Regions from separate parts of the Homo sapiens genome. Here region 1 is linked to region 2. Evidence: fine-mapped expression QTL. Tissue or cell type: cerebellum. Region 2 holds a variant in brackets; the other region holds the start of a gene. All regions are shown on one strand. Distances are from middle to middle.

Region 1 (8,105 bases), 100 kb before region 2:
CACTGATTCCAAGGATGATGTTGTTTTGTGATGCGCATCCAGACACGGGAATTAAGCGCTAAAATGAACCAAACGCAGACTGGCAGGTTTATCCACACAGTGGACGCTTTGGGAATACCCTGCCTGTCTTTGGAGTGGAAGATTAGGACATGAGAAAAACCTGAATTTTCAAAATGGACGCATCTACACAAATCAAGGAAGTCCCAGTTGAGAAAAGTGCCCCCCGTCCACACACGAAATCTAAACAGTGACTTTTTTTAATACAAGTCAAATAAGTGTCTAAAGTTTACGTCTTTACATAAAGCCATGAAATAAAACACCAAGAAATAACCTCACCCTGTCCCCATTCCAACTCCTGAGCCTGGGGAGGGTCCCCTTAGGGATCTTTGCAATTTACCCTTCCTTTGATGCCCCTAAACCAGCAAGACAGGAATGAACAAGAACAACATCTAATCTCCTCCAGTGCTTGTGGATTTGCATTATTTAAATATATGAGAAACACCCATAATTGAGTAATTATTCTAGCATTTAAAGAATGCCAAACAATGAACCATTTCTTCTTCAGACCTAATCCGGCCCATTTCCGTTTTCCTCTTAGCACAATGTGTAGAATTACCCAATGTGTCGCTTCCTAGAACACTTGATTGTTTATACAAGGTAGGCAAGACTTCTCTGGCGGTGTTTATTTTTCTCATTTTACACTTGATGATTGTAGCCTTTACAGATTTTCCTTTTCTAGACGCTTATCAAGTACTGAATGTGTATGGATCCAATTTTGCACTTTCCTTTTTACAAATAAAGCTTATCCTTTAGGCGAGGGCTGGGGAGAGAAGGCAGAATCTGATAGTAAAAATCTTCAGACTCTGTCCTTGTTGGAGTTACTCCTTAACCATCATTTTAAGGAAAGTATTCTGCAAGTTAGAGATCAGTGCATTGTAACAGCTTCAGAAAGGGGATTTCCCAGAGGGTCTGGGAGGAGAACAAAAGCATTTGCATCTCCTTTCCCCAGAGACTAAGTGGATTTTTCCTGAGCTGCTTTTCCATGTGAAGTCTTGGTGGGAGGATGGAGCACTACACAATGTTCGTGCTTTTGCTGTTGGCCCGGCTGTGGTTTTAATGCGGAGGAAATAAAGAATGTAGAATTGTGCATTCAGTTAGGACTCAAGACTCCTTCGCCCTGCAGTGTTTTGTGTGTGTGTGTGGTTTTTAGTCCGATGTGGAAAGCCCCACTTGACTGTAAGAAAGACAGGCCTTATTCTAACAATTCACACACACACACACGCACACACACGCACACACACACACACAAAGAGAGAGAGAGACAGAGAGAGAGAGAGAGAGAGAGAGAGATCGATCCCAATTTATGGCAAAGCTGGGAAGTCAAGAGTCCCTTCACACCCCTACCAATTTCTCTTCCTTTCCATCTCCATTCACAAGTCTTTAGGGACCATCAGCAAACGCCTGGGGCTAACATTGCACACAAGTGGAAAAGGACTAATGGTGTAATAAAGAGGTCTTGGTCACCCCAAGCGCTGGCCTCTTCCTCTCTGGTTCAGCTCCTTTTAGGAAGACAAATGCAATAGCCCCACTTCTGTTCTCTCAGGCAGAGAGTGTCCAGAGGCAGTGGCTGGGCATGTGGATGAAGTTTTCTCAGTGAGGGTCTCCAATCTCTCTTCTCTGGCATGCTGTGTCACACTTCTTTTGCCTCTATTAATGTGCAAATGAAAGTAGGAATGCCTCTAGATGTTTTGGTGATTAAATGAGCTCGTATTTGCTAAGTGCTTAGATGACAGTAAGTGTGCAGGAGCCTATCTTAGGTCAGGCTCTTTAGAAAGGGTGCCTGAGACGGGGGTTCTCGAGTGAGCGGCTGATTGGAGGCATGCTTACACGAGTAAGGGAGGCGGGACCGGGCAGGGGAGGAGCTGGCAAAGCTATGATTTCCAGAGAAGTACAGCCTCAGCCTGATCCCATGGGGGATCCCATGGGGAGCTCTGGGGTGTCAAGGGCATTCGAGTTTGTGTCACCAAGGCAAGGAAACTGGACGGTCAGCTCCTGGGGCTGGGTGTAATCTCTCAGACATCTGTGTTAATGAAGGGTCATCTTCACAATACTCCAAAAGAAGGGAGCCCGCCCCAGCATCTGCTATACAAGTAAACAATTTCATGACAGCAGCTCCATGTGCCAAGGGGCAAGAGCTCAGAACTTGGGAATCTGAACATCTGAGCCTCAGTTTCCTCATCTGAGGCACCTTCCCTTTGGTCTCACAAAGCCTCCCACGAGTCCCCAAATTGAGGTTGGCACCCTGGCTTCATTTGTTGACAAGTGACAATTGTATTACAAGGGCCTATTTCTATGTTTAGTCCCCAAGGGAGTGCAAGCTGAAGCACAGACTATCCTCTTCCCTGCAGCATGCCTACACGCAGCACAGTGTCTGCGCGTGGGAGGTCCACTATTTGCTGCCCGCCTGAACGGGTAGAAATCTTTCACCTTCAGTGAAGACTCCTCGGCGCTGGCCTCTTTGAGCTCCTAATTGGATGCAGTTTCCCCCACTCCTTGCTCTACCTGATGCTTTTTTCATCTTGCCTTTCCTTCTGAGTCCTTTGATGTGTGGTGTATGTGTTCTCCTCTTTCCACTCTCTCTCTGCAGAAGTCGGTTTCACTCCAATACGCCCCAGCCCCATTCAAAGTACTTTCGAGTGATAGATTTGTGTCCAGATTTGTGAGATTCTAAAAGGACCAGGTGACAGGGAGGGTGGAAATGCAGCTTCAGAACGGCCATGTTGGGTGGTAAGGTAAGAAGGCAGTGGCAGCCCCACTGGCGATAAATCATGCCAATCGGAAGGGAAGATGTCAGAGCAGGGACACTCAGCACTTGGGGCATTCCCTGGCACATGCGACATCACAAAATATGTGCTTTTTTGACCCTCCCACTCTTTCCCTTGGACATGTAATAATCACACATGTTTAAAAGGACTCATGCGGTGGAATTTCTCACATAGAACATTCAGGTAGGGGTAGATAGATACTTGGGGAGCAAGAAAGTTTCTGTGTTGTAGTAGGAGGAGGGAGAGGAAAGACCTTCCTTGGATAGTTTTTTGGACGTCGCTATACCTTCACAACTTCACATTCTTCTTCTTCTTCTTCTTCTTTTTTTTTTTTTTTTTTTTTTTTTGAGACAGGGTCTCTGTTCCATCGCCCAGCCTGGAGTGCAATCGTGCAAACACGGCTCACTGCAGCCTCGACCTCCCTGGCTCAAGTGATCCTCCCACCTCAGCCTCCCAAAGTGTTGGGATTAAAGGTGTGAGCCACCGAGCCCGGCCCCACATTCTTCTAATTTTTTTTTTGTTGTTGTTGAGATGGAGTCTCACTCTGTCGTCCAGGCTGGAGTGCAGTGGCGCGATCTCAGCTCACTGCAACCTCCCAGGTTCAAGCAGTTCTCCTGCCTCAGCCTCCCGAGTAGCTGGGATTACAGGCGTGCGCCACCATGCCCGGCTAATTTTTGTATTTTTAGTAGAGACGGGGATTTCACCATGCTGGCCAGGCTCGTCTCGAACTCCTGACCTCGTGATCCGCCCGCCTGGGCCTCCCAAAGTGCTAGGATTACAAGCGTGAGCCACCGCGCCCGGCCCATTCTTCTTTTTTAAAACAACCTTTCCCCTCATAAAAGTAATATTACCATTTTACAAAAAATTGGAAGGCAAATCATTTTTAAAAATCCCGCCAAAGGAATGCAAACTCTTGTGAGCATTTCAGGACATTTTCCTCCAGTCTCTTCCCCTGTGTATCTGGATTTCAATCAGGCTCTACCAGATATTTTTGTATCACTGTAACTGTTTAAAAATCTCCCTGATACTGTCCTGCATTTCCTGGCATAACGTGTTGCGGCTGTGGGTCTGGGGCACGAAGTAGGTGGGAGATTTAGAGCAAGACACAGCCCCAACTCTGGAGCTTCAGCTTCCCCAGCTGGGAGCCAGTGAAACAGAAGTTCCCGTCTAGGCTGAAAGTTTTAGGAGTTGACCCGGCTTCCTCCCCAGCAATGGTCTACTTGGGTCTCCGCTCAAACGATCAGACCCCACAAACCGGATGAAGCGCTCAGGGAAGGTCAAGGAACTCCCGCCTAGTGTGGGCCCCCAGGTTAGCCCTTCTAGGGCTGTCCTGGCGGGGACGCAAAGTGGCCACCTGCCCAGCTGCCCGCTTCCAGAGGCGTCCTCCCTGCGCCGCCCGAGAGGACCGGCCGCGGGCTCCCCCAGCTCCTCAGCTCCCTCGGCCCCGCCTTCAGGGGCTTTTCCCACCTTCGCGGGACCAGACGGGTTGTGTGGGAGACCGAGGGCGCAGCCTCCCGCCAAGTGCGCAGAGGGTCTCCAGACAGCCAGAGCCCGGGAGCGGGTGAAGGGAGGGCACTGCCCGCTCTCTCGGGAATTGTTTGCGCCCGAGGAGTCACCCCAGGCAGGCCGCGCCCGCAGTCCGGGTAGGGCGTCGTCCTCCCCGCCCGCCTTCCTCTACGCGGGGGCCCGGGGGCGGACTGACGCGGCGGCGCCCATCCTGGCCTCCATGCGGTTTCCCGAGGCCGGAGGAAGGTGGCGGAGCGGGAGGGAGAGAGCGAGGAGCGCGCGGAGAGGGAGGACGGCGGAGGGGGAGGAGCAAGCGGAGGGGTGGGGGTGGGGTCGAGGAGCCGAGCGCCGAGGAGGACCCCGAGGGAGACTGGGGGCGGAGCAGCCGGCGACGGAGAGGCGCGGAGGACGCGGGGCCGGGGGAGGCGGAGCAGCGGGAGTGGGTGGAAAAGCAGAGGCGGCGGGAGGAGCGGGAGCCTCCGTGGGAGATTCGGGAGGAGCAGCCGGCGTGGGTGGAGCCGCCGGCGTGGGAGGAGCCGCGGGGCCTGGGTGAGAACGGGGCGGGACGGCCGGAGGCGGGGCCTGCGAACGCCCTGCCCCTGCTCGCCCGGGCCGCGCCGAGGAACGAAGATGGCCGGGCGCGCCGCGGGAACGGAGGGGCGGCCGGCAGCGGCGGCGGCGGCGGCGGCGGCTCCCGGGCTGTGACTTCGCGCGCGGCGGCCACCCGGGCTACCTGAACGGAGTGGGCGGCGCGGGCAGCGGCTTGCTAGGGCGGGCGGGCGGACGCCGGTGCACGGGCGCCGGGCGGAGGATGCGCCAGGAGCGGCGGGCGGCTCCCCGCGGCCGCCCCCGCGCCCCGGGCGCCGGGCCTTAGTGCTGGCGGAGGAGGCGGCGCGCGCGGGGCGGCCGGGCGGCGGCGGGGCCCGCGCCGTCATGCCTTGGCTGAGCGGCGGCCGGCGGCGACGGCGGGGACAGCCGCGCGAGGCCCCGCGGGAGCCGCCGCCTTCTGCGCAGCCCCAGCGGGAACCGCGCCGCCGGCGCCCCCCGCCGCGGTCCCCACGCCCCCAGCTCCTTCCGCGCCGCCGCCGCGGGCCCGGGAGAGCGCCGAGCTGCCGCTGCCCGCCGGCTGGGAGGAGGCGCGAGACTACGACGGTCGCGTCTTTTACATTGACCACAACACGCGCCAGACGTCGTGGATCGACCCCCGCGACCGGTAAGCGGGCCGGCTGGGGGCGCCAGACCCGGCGCGGGCGCTACGACCCGGGCCGCCGGCCGGCGCCACCGCGGATGCGCTGGGGACACGCCCCGCCCAGCGCGGGGCCGCCGCCGAGAGCCCCCGGGCCCGGGCAGAGCTCGGAGCGCCTCCATCCCCGGAACCAGGGGACTCCCTGGAGTGCTCCGGTCCAGGCTACGATCGAGGCGCCCCCATCCCTTGGGCCCAGGGAGAGGATCGGAGACACCAGGAGGCCCTCGGGGCTGGGTGAAGATCTTTGGTTCCGGGGGTCCGGGAGAGGATCCACCCTCCCAATACCCCGACTCCCAGGGCTCTGACCAAGAATGGAGGTGCCCCTTCTCCAGGCCTCGAGCCCTCTGAGCGCCGAGGCCGGCCGCCTACAGGTCCCCCGCCGCTGGGCGGACCCTCTCATTCGGTTCCCTCACGTCACCCGCTGTCCGGCGCCTGGGAACTGGGCTCCTGGAATTTCCTCTCCTGGGGCTGACAGATGGCCCTCTTTTCCTTTCTCTGCGGCAGCCTCGCCCATCCCGGTCCCGGGCGTCTGCGGCCCACTGCCCCGGCCCTGGTTCTGCAGGTGTCCCCAGCCCCGCGGTGGCGAGATGAGCTGTCACCTTGGATCACAAACGTGCGCCCCAGCTTTGGGGTGCGGGTTCCCTGTCTGGCGGGTTCAGGCTGGTTTCCATCCAAAACCTGATGTCAGACGGGCCCTTGAGGGATTCCCAACCCTTTTGGAGTTGGAGAAGTCTGTTCCCAAACTCTAGTTGCTCTTTAGCGCCTTAAAACTCGTGAGTTAAAACTGTTTGAAATAGCCTTCTGTACTGCAGCCAGAATGCAATATGATTAGTCCCATATGCTTTTGGAATAAACGAAAAACAAGAATTGTATTTTAAGTTTCCTTTTTGTGAAAGATATGCATGGGGTACAAAGCTGTCTTATTCACGTATAAAAACCCAATCAAGTAAAAACTGATTCTTGTAAAAGCACTATCAGATTTCATTTAATTAATTCCATGTAACGAAGCTCTTCCTTAACTTTTTGCTCGATTGTCTACGGGTTTCGATTGTTCAACTGCTTTTACAGAGATGTATTTTGTGTGGAATTGGGATTTCTGTGGACATCAAGTGTTTCCACAGGTTATCTGATGTCTTGTCCTCTCTAGAGCAACTCTCCTTCCAGGGCCTGAGTGCCAAAAAGGAAACACCACAGGCTTCCCAGTGATTTGAAGACTTGCAAAGGCCCAGTGTGGTGACATTGTGCCTGCTTCCTCCTACCTGCACAGGGAAGGCGGCCTGCATGGCACTGGCGTCTGAAAATAAACTTTTGAGGAGAGAAGCTGCTGAATTGTTTGAAGATTTCTCTGAGTTCAAGCAGGGGAAAACAAAAGAAAGCAAAACAAAAAGATCGTGATTCCCTAACATTCTCGCTGAACATTGCAAACCTCTGGGCTCAGAAACCTATATCAATCCTAGTACAATTTTATGGGTTAAAAAGATGCCTAGTTATTTTGAAAATCAGGTGAGATCATGTTATAATTTTAACCAAAGGCTAGAGCCCCAGCTGTTTGATCAACCCTTGGATGGTTCTGGAATTGGTAGAACTGCTTGGAATGCAGTGCCCTTTTATACCATATGTATGTTAAAAACCCAAACAACTGGAAAATGAACCAATTAAAATAGTGTTTTGCTTAGAAAAGGCTAAGGCTCACTTTCCAAGGGTAATATAAAACAGTTGTGGTTATATTGGAGTGGAGATTCATGCTGAAAGATATCAATGTGAGGATTTTCTTTTTAATGGTGTAACCTGTGACAAACGTGAATGGACCATACAGAAATCAGCTTGGAGAATCTTGTTTTCCATGTATTTCAGACACATTTCCTATATTCCTTTTTTCCAGAAATCGATTTGTTACTTTTCAGACAATCACTTAAAGGTTTTTAAAAAGTCTCCGTTCTGATGCTAAAATTGTCAATTGAGTCAACAAAAGTGGATATTTTACCTTTTTTTTGTAAAGTAAAAACGTGTGTACTTTTATGAGACGTTGTTTTTATAGTGAGTGAAAATTCAGCAGGGGACAGCTTGAACTTCAGCTCCCATAATACCTTGCCCGAAATATGTATGGAATGTTCAGCAAGCCACAAACATTTAAGTGGAGTCGGCTGAAGGCTGTAATAGTCATTCTTCTTCCTCTTTCAAAACAGAACCTGGCCGAGTTTTATAGGTGGCGGGTTACCCTTTAAAGTTGTAATTAACTTTTATTATATGGGAAGAACTGCATGTCAGAGGGCAGTGTTTTCTCCATGCGCATCTGACAGTTAAAACCCTTTTTGAGTTGCTTTTGAGTCACACAGGAAAATGGTATTCAAGAAATACGAGGACTTTCACCAAACAGCTTCCACATAGAGACCTGACAGGAGAAAGGCAAATACATAATAGCTTTTTTTTTCTCTTTAAGAAAATGAAATTGTGGTGGAATAAATGAATGTAGTAGGTTAAGTGAAAATTGTTGTTGACTTTAAACATAATTTCATATAAACTTTAGT
Region 2 (8,105 bases):
ACAGAGCTGGAATGCGCTGACGGATTTAGCGATGGGTTGGAAATTCTACCCTGGTCACTCAAGAGTGGAGCCAGTTTTCAGTAGGAACTCAATTTAGATTCTATTAATTTGGGATTTGAGCTAATAGAATTCAGGTTGGGTTAGAATTTCTGAAAAGCATTAAGAAAAAAGTTAGTAGCCTTGGACCGGGCTTGGGTAAATTCCCTACAACAAATGGCTTCTTGGAGCTGGTCACTGTTTGCCACTGGATACGCTCTGCTGGTGTCGTCTCTGCCCCTGGAGTCCTCTGTGACTTAATAGTGTCCCGGTGCTTGTGAGAGTGGGTTCCAAGTTACAGCTCCAAAGCTCAATGAAGGATGTATTTTGAACTCACTTTTAAACTCCCTTTGAAAACTCTCGGCTCTCCATCTTCTGAAAAAGATGGGGTTTTTGAGGATATCGCCCTTGATAAGCGTCAGATAGGATGTGAGTATCACAGAAAATTGGGGAAATGTTTTTCAGTAGTAAAGGAAATGCCTGTTTGTTGGTAGTGTGCCTTGGCTTTAGGGTCAATCCAGCCTGACCGAACTTTGAGCTTGCGTAGCAGACGCAAGCTACTTTATATGAGTTTCTTCATCTGTAAAGCAGGAATAGAATCCAAAGACCAGTAAGGAATGAGGCAGTGCATAGAAAGCAGTGTGCCTTTCTATAAGCCCCTCAGTGGAACTTTTTTTTTTTGAGATGGAGTCTCGCTCTGTCGCCCAGGCTGGAGTGCAGTGGCACGATCTTGGCTCACTGCAAGCTCCGACTCCCGACTCCCGGGTTCACGCCATTCTCCTGCCTCAGCCTCCCGAGTAGCTGGGACTACAGGTGCCCGCCACCACGCCCGGCTAATTTTTTGTATTTTTAGTAGAGACGGGGTTTCACCGTGTTAACCAGGATGGTCTCGATCTCCTGACCTCGTGATCCGCCCGCCTCGGCCTCCCAAAGTGCTGGGATTACAGGCGTGAGCCACCGCGCCCGGCCCCAGAATTGCTTTTTAAACGTTACTTTCATTTGTACAAGCTATCAAAACATTTTCCTTAAAAATTAAAATATCATAGGTAAGTGGAATCTTAGAACATTCTACTCAAGAGTTTATTACAGCTGTTCTCAAACATTTTGGTCTCAGAACCTCCTTCCGATGTTAAAATGCTGAGGATCCCAAAGAGCTTTTGTTTGTGTTGGTTTTTTTAAAGTTCTTTTTTCTAACTGTTTTGTTTTGTTTTTCATTTTTCCCCACCCAGGGACCTATCAGTGTTTATGTGGATTTTTATCTGTCAGTATTTGCTAATTTAGAAGTTAGCGCTGGGAAATTTTTAAAATATTTATTTATTAAAGATAACAATAGGCCGGGCACAGTGGCTCATGCCTGTAATCCCAGCACTTTGGGAGGCCAAGGCAGGAGGATTACTTTAGTTCAGGAGTTAGAGACCAGCCTAGGCAACATGACAAAACCTCATCTTTACAAAAAATACAAAAGTTAGCTGGGTATGGTGGCACATGCCTGTGGTCCCAGCTACTTGGGAGCCTGAGGTGGGAGGATGGCTTGAGCCCGGGAGGTGGAGGTGGCAGTGAGCTCTGATCGCACCACTGCACTCCAGCCTGCACAACAGAGCAAGGCCCCATCTCAATAAATAAAAAAAGACAATACAAACCCTATTATGTGTTAATATTAGTAACATTTTTATGACTGATAACTTTTTTGAAACAAAAAACTATAGTGAGAAGAGTGGTATTATTTGCCCTTGCTATCCATCTCTTTAGCGTCTGGCTTGCTAGAAGGCAGCTGCTTTGGCCATTGGTGCATTCGGCCTGTTGAGATAGGGTCATTTTGAGTGAACACGTGAAGACCATCTAGCTGCTTACCGATATGCCATTGGGAAGGAGGGGACCTCATAGGACCCCTGAAGGAGTTTTGGGGATCCGCCAGGGGTCTTTGGATCATGCTTTGGAAACCATTGGTTTCAATATATGATATTGAACTTGAAAGTGGGTTGTGTCGTGGCTCCATTTAGGACGATGCTTGTTACTCTCTTGCCAGCTGACCTCTGCATGGCACCATTTGGAATTTTGTTTGCATCAAGAGAAACAAAGGCTCATCAGAATTTATGGCATGTGGTTGAAACTTGTAAACAAACTCAGACTGGTTTGTCTTCCTTATCCTAAGTTGGTGGCGCATCTGTTTCCTTTATGGGTGATAGCAGCTCTTTGTCAATCACGTGTCATCTGCCGTACATTATTTTATCTATGCAGCATCAGTTCCCTGAGCTGGAGATTGTGGACTCCATTTTTACAGGTAATGAAACTAAGGGCTCAGAGAGGGTGAGACATTTGCCTAAGGCCACACAGCTTGTGAGTGACTGGCCAGGTGGGATTCTCTGAATCCCAGGCTGCTGTCAGACACTGTGTCTGGTTTCCTCTCACTCCCACCTAGCCAAGCTCTTTAAACCCCTTCGGCATGTCCCCTTCCCTGTTGGTGGAAAGAGGAAGGTATTAAAGGGGCCTACTGTGGCCACACGTCACAGTGTCATTTCCATTTGTAAACCAGGAGTGTTTCCTTCTAGAGGCAAACATATTTATTCATGGAGTTGTCCAACAACTGTGTATTGAGTGCCTATCCACAATAGGCTCGATTCTAGGCGGTGGGCCTACTGCAGTAGGAATAAATTTTATTCTACAAAATTACTAAGTAGAAAAAAGTAGAAGGAAGGAAAACAAAAATACCTCCAACCCCATGGCCTGGAGATGGCAACGGCTGCTGTTTTGTTTCATTTGCTTCTAATGTTTTAACTGTATAGATCTTAGAATTATATTTGTTCTTCTCTAGAAGGTGGCCTAGTATGAGGGAATCTGATTTGTTCCAAGGAATTTCAACAGATGACTGCGTGCTCTGCGTTTGAGCTCATCTGCTAGTTATCTGTCCTTCTGCTCACTTACCACTCCTCCCATCCATCCAAGCAGCCATCCCCAGCCACCCACCCAGCCAGCCATCTAGCCACCCACCCAGCCACCCACCCAGCCACCCATCCAGCCACCCATCCAGCCACCTACCCAGCCAGCCATCCACCAACCCAGCCACCCATCCAGCCACCCACCCAGCCACCCAGCCACCCATCCAGCCACCCACCCACCCATCCAGCCACCCACCCATCCAGCCACCCACCCACACATTGACCCATCCCTGTGCCCACTCCTCTTCTCACGCATCCCCTCCCCCGTGCACTGTGCCTGGCGCTTCCACAGAGTAGCAGGCACTGCTCAGGGTGCCAGGGATGTATTTTTCAAACGGGACAAAAGCAGTCTCTGTGATCTTGGCCCTTGTGACCTGGGTGCTTTTAGAATGGGTGGTGATTGCAACCTAATTCAGCTGGAGGGAATTGATAGTGGACTGTCTTGTTATGAAAATATTCTCCCTGTCTTTGAAATGTACTAATCGACTGTCTTCTTACCTACAGGATTCTGCTTCAGGAAAAAAGGAATTGTCTACTTATGCAGCTGGAAGAAGCCACCCGCTTAACATCCTACCTCCAGTCCCAGTTAAAAAGGTAGGTTACTTTCAAAGAGAAAACTGTACTTGTTCATCATGTTCCAATGACTGGTACATGAACTCGTTTCTTGTAGCTTGACCTGAAATGTTGTTAACACAGAATGGATACATTATATTTTTAACATGCTACTACTGTATGACTCAAGGAATATGGAGAGAACCACATTTGGCTTCAGGGTAAATAAGAGGCCTGAAGTCAGATGTATTCAAGGATTTTGTAACCTAATTAACAGTTTCAGAAGTGTACATCTATACACGTGCGCATTTTTGTTTTGGGTTTTTTTTAAAAGCATACGAACTTTTTAAGCTAGTAAGATTTGGCTGCTCAAGAATGGCCAATGTCAAGGGCCTCAGATGTGTCATTTTCTCAGATATTCCTCCTAACAATGCCCCAGGTGGGAACTGTTCTCACCCCAGCCCCAGTGGGAGCCCAGAGGGGGTGAATGGCTTGACCAAGTGTACCTGGCTAGTATGTGTTCCAGCCAGGACTGGGACTGGGACTTGGGCACGGGTCTCTGCTGTTGCCCACTGCTCTCTGCCACCCTTTCCGTGCTCACAGGGTGAGCAGGGGTGGCTGCCCTGCCATCTCAGATGGCCATGCTGTCTCATTTCAGCCTGTGTGCCAGCACCCTGACGGTGTCCTCGGGGAGCAGCCGCGGGTCCCTAGCCTCCAGCCGTGGGTCTCTGGCCTCCAGCCGGGGCTCCCTGAGCTCGGTCAGCTTCACGGACATCTACGGCCTCCCGCAGTACGAGAAGCCCGACGCTGAGGGCAGCCAGCTTCTACGCTTCGACCTCATTCCCTTCGACTCTCTGGGGCGAGATGCTCCCTTTTCAGAGCCCCCAGGCCCCTCGGGCTTCCACAAGCAGAGGCGGTCCCTGGACACGCCCCAGTCCCTGGCATCGCTGTCCTCCCGCTCCTCGCTGTCCTCGCTGTCGCCCCCAAGCTCGCCCCTGGACACGCCCTTCCTCCCTGCCTCACGGGACTCGCCGCTGGCGCAGCTGGCGGACAGCTGTGAGGGGCCAGGCCTGGGCGCCCTAGACAGACTGCGGGCACACGCCTCGGCTATGGGGGACGAAGACTTACCAGGCATGGCGGCCCTTCAGCCACACGGGGTCCCCGGGGA[T/C]GGGGAAGGGCCGCACGAGCGAGGACCCCCACCAGCCAGCGCTCCCGTGGGTGGAAGTAAGTGCGGATGTGGCCTCCTGCGGGGCGAGGGTTACCTGCAGGGCGGAAACTGTGGGGTCCAGAGTGAGGATGGCTGGCTTTCCAGGTCCATGGTGAGCTTTACGTTTAGGAATATTGATGTGATCGGGAAGAGCACACACCTGCTCTTTCTGATCTGTGTTGGGGAAAGATCATTGAAATTGACAAAGTTGTCTTTCCTAGGTATTTGGCTTGTTTTCAAAAAATACTTAATTGTTGAAAACTAGGGTAAGAACTACACAGGCTTCCACATTCAGAGGCTGCTGGAGATGGATTAGGGCCTTCATGACCTTTGCAGCGTGCGTGCCGAGATGGAACCGTCAGTGTGTGCCCGCCTGAGACCATTATGCCAACAGGTGTCTGGTTGTAGCTAGTGGAAATCTTGACTTCTTTTGTTGCTTTGACATCTCTTTATCTTTTATAGTTTTCATAGTTTCCAAGAACATAGGTCTATCAAATGTGGAAGTGAAAATAATTGTGTAATTTCAAAAGACATGCCTGTAAGTATCGGTCATTTCTACTGATTTGGTTTCTCTGGTGATTCTTCAAATGGAAAAACACGGAGCTCCGTGGAGCCTCATCCATTCAGTTGGTGTTGGTTCAGCTCCTCCTCGGAGCTGGGGTCTTTCAGCTTGTAGCCTGCTTGGAAGACCAAACTGCTATTGAAGGGAATATTGACCCCATGTGCTTTTCTCAGCCACCCATGGCAACTTTATCTTCCTTTGGTTTTAAAGAGGATCAAGAACAAGGTCTCCCGTTCCTGAAGTTCAGCCCATTTAATTGACTTTTATTTGCACGGCAAAAATGTTTTAAATGTTCCATTTAGGCAAACACTAGATAATTTGTGCAGCATAGTGGATCTCAGCCAGGGGTGTTTTTGCGTCCTGCCCCTGGGGAACACTTGGCAATGTCTGGAAACATTTTTGGTTGTCACAACTAGGGGATGGGAGATGCTCCTGGCATGCACAGGGCAGCACCCCCTCCCCCTCGAGAATGGTCCAGCCCCAAATGTCAAGAGGGCTGAGGCTGAGAAACCCTAGTCACGTACTATGGAGTATTTATGCGGCAAGGGGTAGAAATAAAACTAGAGAGCAGAACCAGTGTGGTGTAGTGGAAACAGCTTCAAACTAGCAGCTGGGAGACCAGGCTTTTGTTCCCTGCCCTGTCCACTTCTAGCTGTGTGACCTTGAACACATACCTGGACTGAGTCTCACCTTTTCCACCCTTGAATGCAGTGATCTTTGTGACCCCTTCCATTTGCCACCATTCTGTTACCCAAGAGATAGATGGATTGGTAGATCAATAGATAGGTTGATCACTCTATAAAATAGTAGTCTGTTGGCACTTACGTGCGTAACCAGAGGCCATCATGTTCTGAGACTGCCCCAGGGCTTTTTGGCATCTCTATTTTGGTGTCTGCCCCTGTGTTTGCAAACACACTTTGGTATCCCCAGATACATTGTTTCTGAAGTCCATATATGCAGGTATCCTTCATTAGCTTTGTTCCTCTTTATAACCACAGGTTGATTGCTCCATGTTTATTCCGTTCAGTCAGAAAAGAAATATCCAATTAGGACTTCTTTCTTAGTCTCCCTCCTCTCTCCCACCACCTTCTCCTTAAGGGATTGAGATTCCAGAATGTCAGTCTAGTTAGGCATAAAATCTGCACAAGGCCCAAGGGCCACTTTGGGTCAGAGGAGAGACAGAGTGGGAGGGAGAAGCGCTGACTTAATTTCACATCCTGGTTTCTTTATTTTTTCCTTTGCTTTCCGTGGCAGATGCTATAATGGTTGAAACTTCTTGGACTGGGAAGTATTTGCTTACGTGTGTAGACACTGCCATCTCGTGGTGGAGCCATATGTCATTCGTGATTATTTCTTGTATTACACTGCCATCTTGTGGCGGATTCGTATATGACATTGGTGATGAATTCTTGTATGGCACTGCCATCTGGTGGCGGATTCTTATATGACACCGCCAATAAATTCCTGAGTGACACTGCCATCTGGTGGTAGATTCTTATATGACATCGGTGGTGGATTCTTGCGTGACACTGCCGCCTAGCGGTAGCTTTTTATGATACTGCCATCTGGTGATGGTTTTATATGTTACATATATTACATTGTTTCAAGGACACATATGTATTATGTTGTTCTAAGGACACGTTTATTTGTATCCTTAGAAACTTGAAATAGTTGACCCTGCTGGGTGTCCCCAGAGGGCCGGGTTGGGTAGCCAGCTTCAGGCATGGACACAGGGGGGGCTCCTCGCCTCCCCTGCCCCATCATGTATCAGCTGTGCTGGGAACACTGCAGTCTAAGTTTGGCCCCCAGCAAGTCTTAGTAAGACAAAATTTTTGTAAGATAAAAATCAAAGTTGTCCAAACTTGCAAACCAGCCTCTGAATGATTTTTTCCTTGTGTTTTCAATCAATCGGAGGAAACAGAAGGCAGGTCAGAGGAGTGGGGCAATACACTGTGATTTTTCATACTATTTACGTTTTTGTTACAGTTTTGTCTTCCCTGGATTTTAAAAGTCAAATGTGTTATGATTATGAAATACTTAGCTATTTTCATCTACCCATTAGTATTTGCTAATCAAAACCTGTAAAAATCTTGACTTTGCTCATATTGATGTTTTTATGATATTGATATTCTGTTTAATGTTGTTGGCTTAAATTCTGCAGTGTTTTCACTTTGTGCTTTTTTTTTTTTTTATCTCCTCATGCGGCTCGACAGAAGTGCTCACTGTAAGTGGCCTTGGGAGTCCCCTTGCTCAGCGTTGTTGCTCAGGCCCCAGGCATACGTTTGTGCTGTGGATGGATGTGTTCAGGATGGCTGGGGTGTGGCCAACGACGGTTATCTTATAGCTGTGCTTCAACACAAGTTGGCAATTGGCCTTATTGTTATCTCATTGTTAATATTCAAGCTGTTTAAGAACTTTCCTAGAAGCTTTCACTGTTCATTCCCTGTATGTGTTTGTTTCTGGAATGTAATGGCGTTCGTTGCTGTCATATGCCACCTGGCAGCTCTGCTATGCTGTGGTTTTGACTGTATTTTCTTCCTTTTTACCAAGCACTGTTCACATCCTTGGCTCTTAGTGTCTGTCTGTCTTGAATGATGAAAAGGGAGTAAAGAGATTTTCACATGAACATGGGGAAGATTTGACCCTTGTCTCCCTGGCACTGCTCCTGAGGGTCCACCTCTGTGCCTTGAAGCCCCAGGGCAGGTGTCCGGGGTGTGGAGCGTGGAGTCTGTGCTTTTTCTCAGCCGGGGCAGTTGCCGACAGGACTTCCTCCTGGCAGTTCCTACTTCCACCCACCCTGTGGGTCCAGTGA

Evidence for each region. PIP is the estimated chance that this variant, and not a neighbour inherited with it, causes the effect.
Region 1: WWC3 starts here. The variant in region 2 is fine-mapped to the expression of WWC3 in cerebellum (GTEx, PIP above 0.99). The same link has a PIP of 0.9 or more in cerebellar hemisphere.

What each region holds. Positions count from the first base shown.
Region 1 is chrX:10,010,315-10,018,419 of GRCh38, forward strand. WWC3 (WWC family member 3) reads left to right here and starts at 4,940. Exons shown (of 24, transcript NM_015691.5): 1 at 4,940-5,359; 2 at 5,362-5,544. The coding sequence starts at 5,265. RefSeq lists enhancers at 3,055-3,938, 3,939-4,822 and silencers at 4,643-4,812, 4,853-4,912.
Region 2 is chrX:10,112,942-10,121,046 of GRCh38, forward strand. It overlaps WWC3 (WWC family member 3), which reads left to right. Exons shown (of 24, transcript NM_015691.5): 11 at 3,477-3,566; 12 at 4,183-4,748. Among named protein-coding and RNA genes, the nearest start is that of CLCN4, 40 kb to the right of the region's middle. RefSeq lists an enhancer at 6,488-6,782. The variant T/C (reference allele first, on the strand shown) is at 4,693.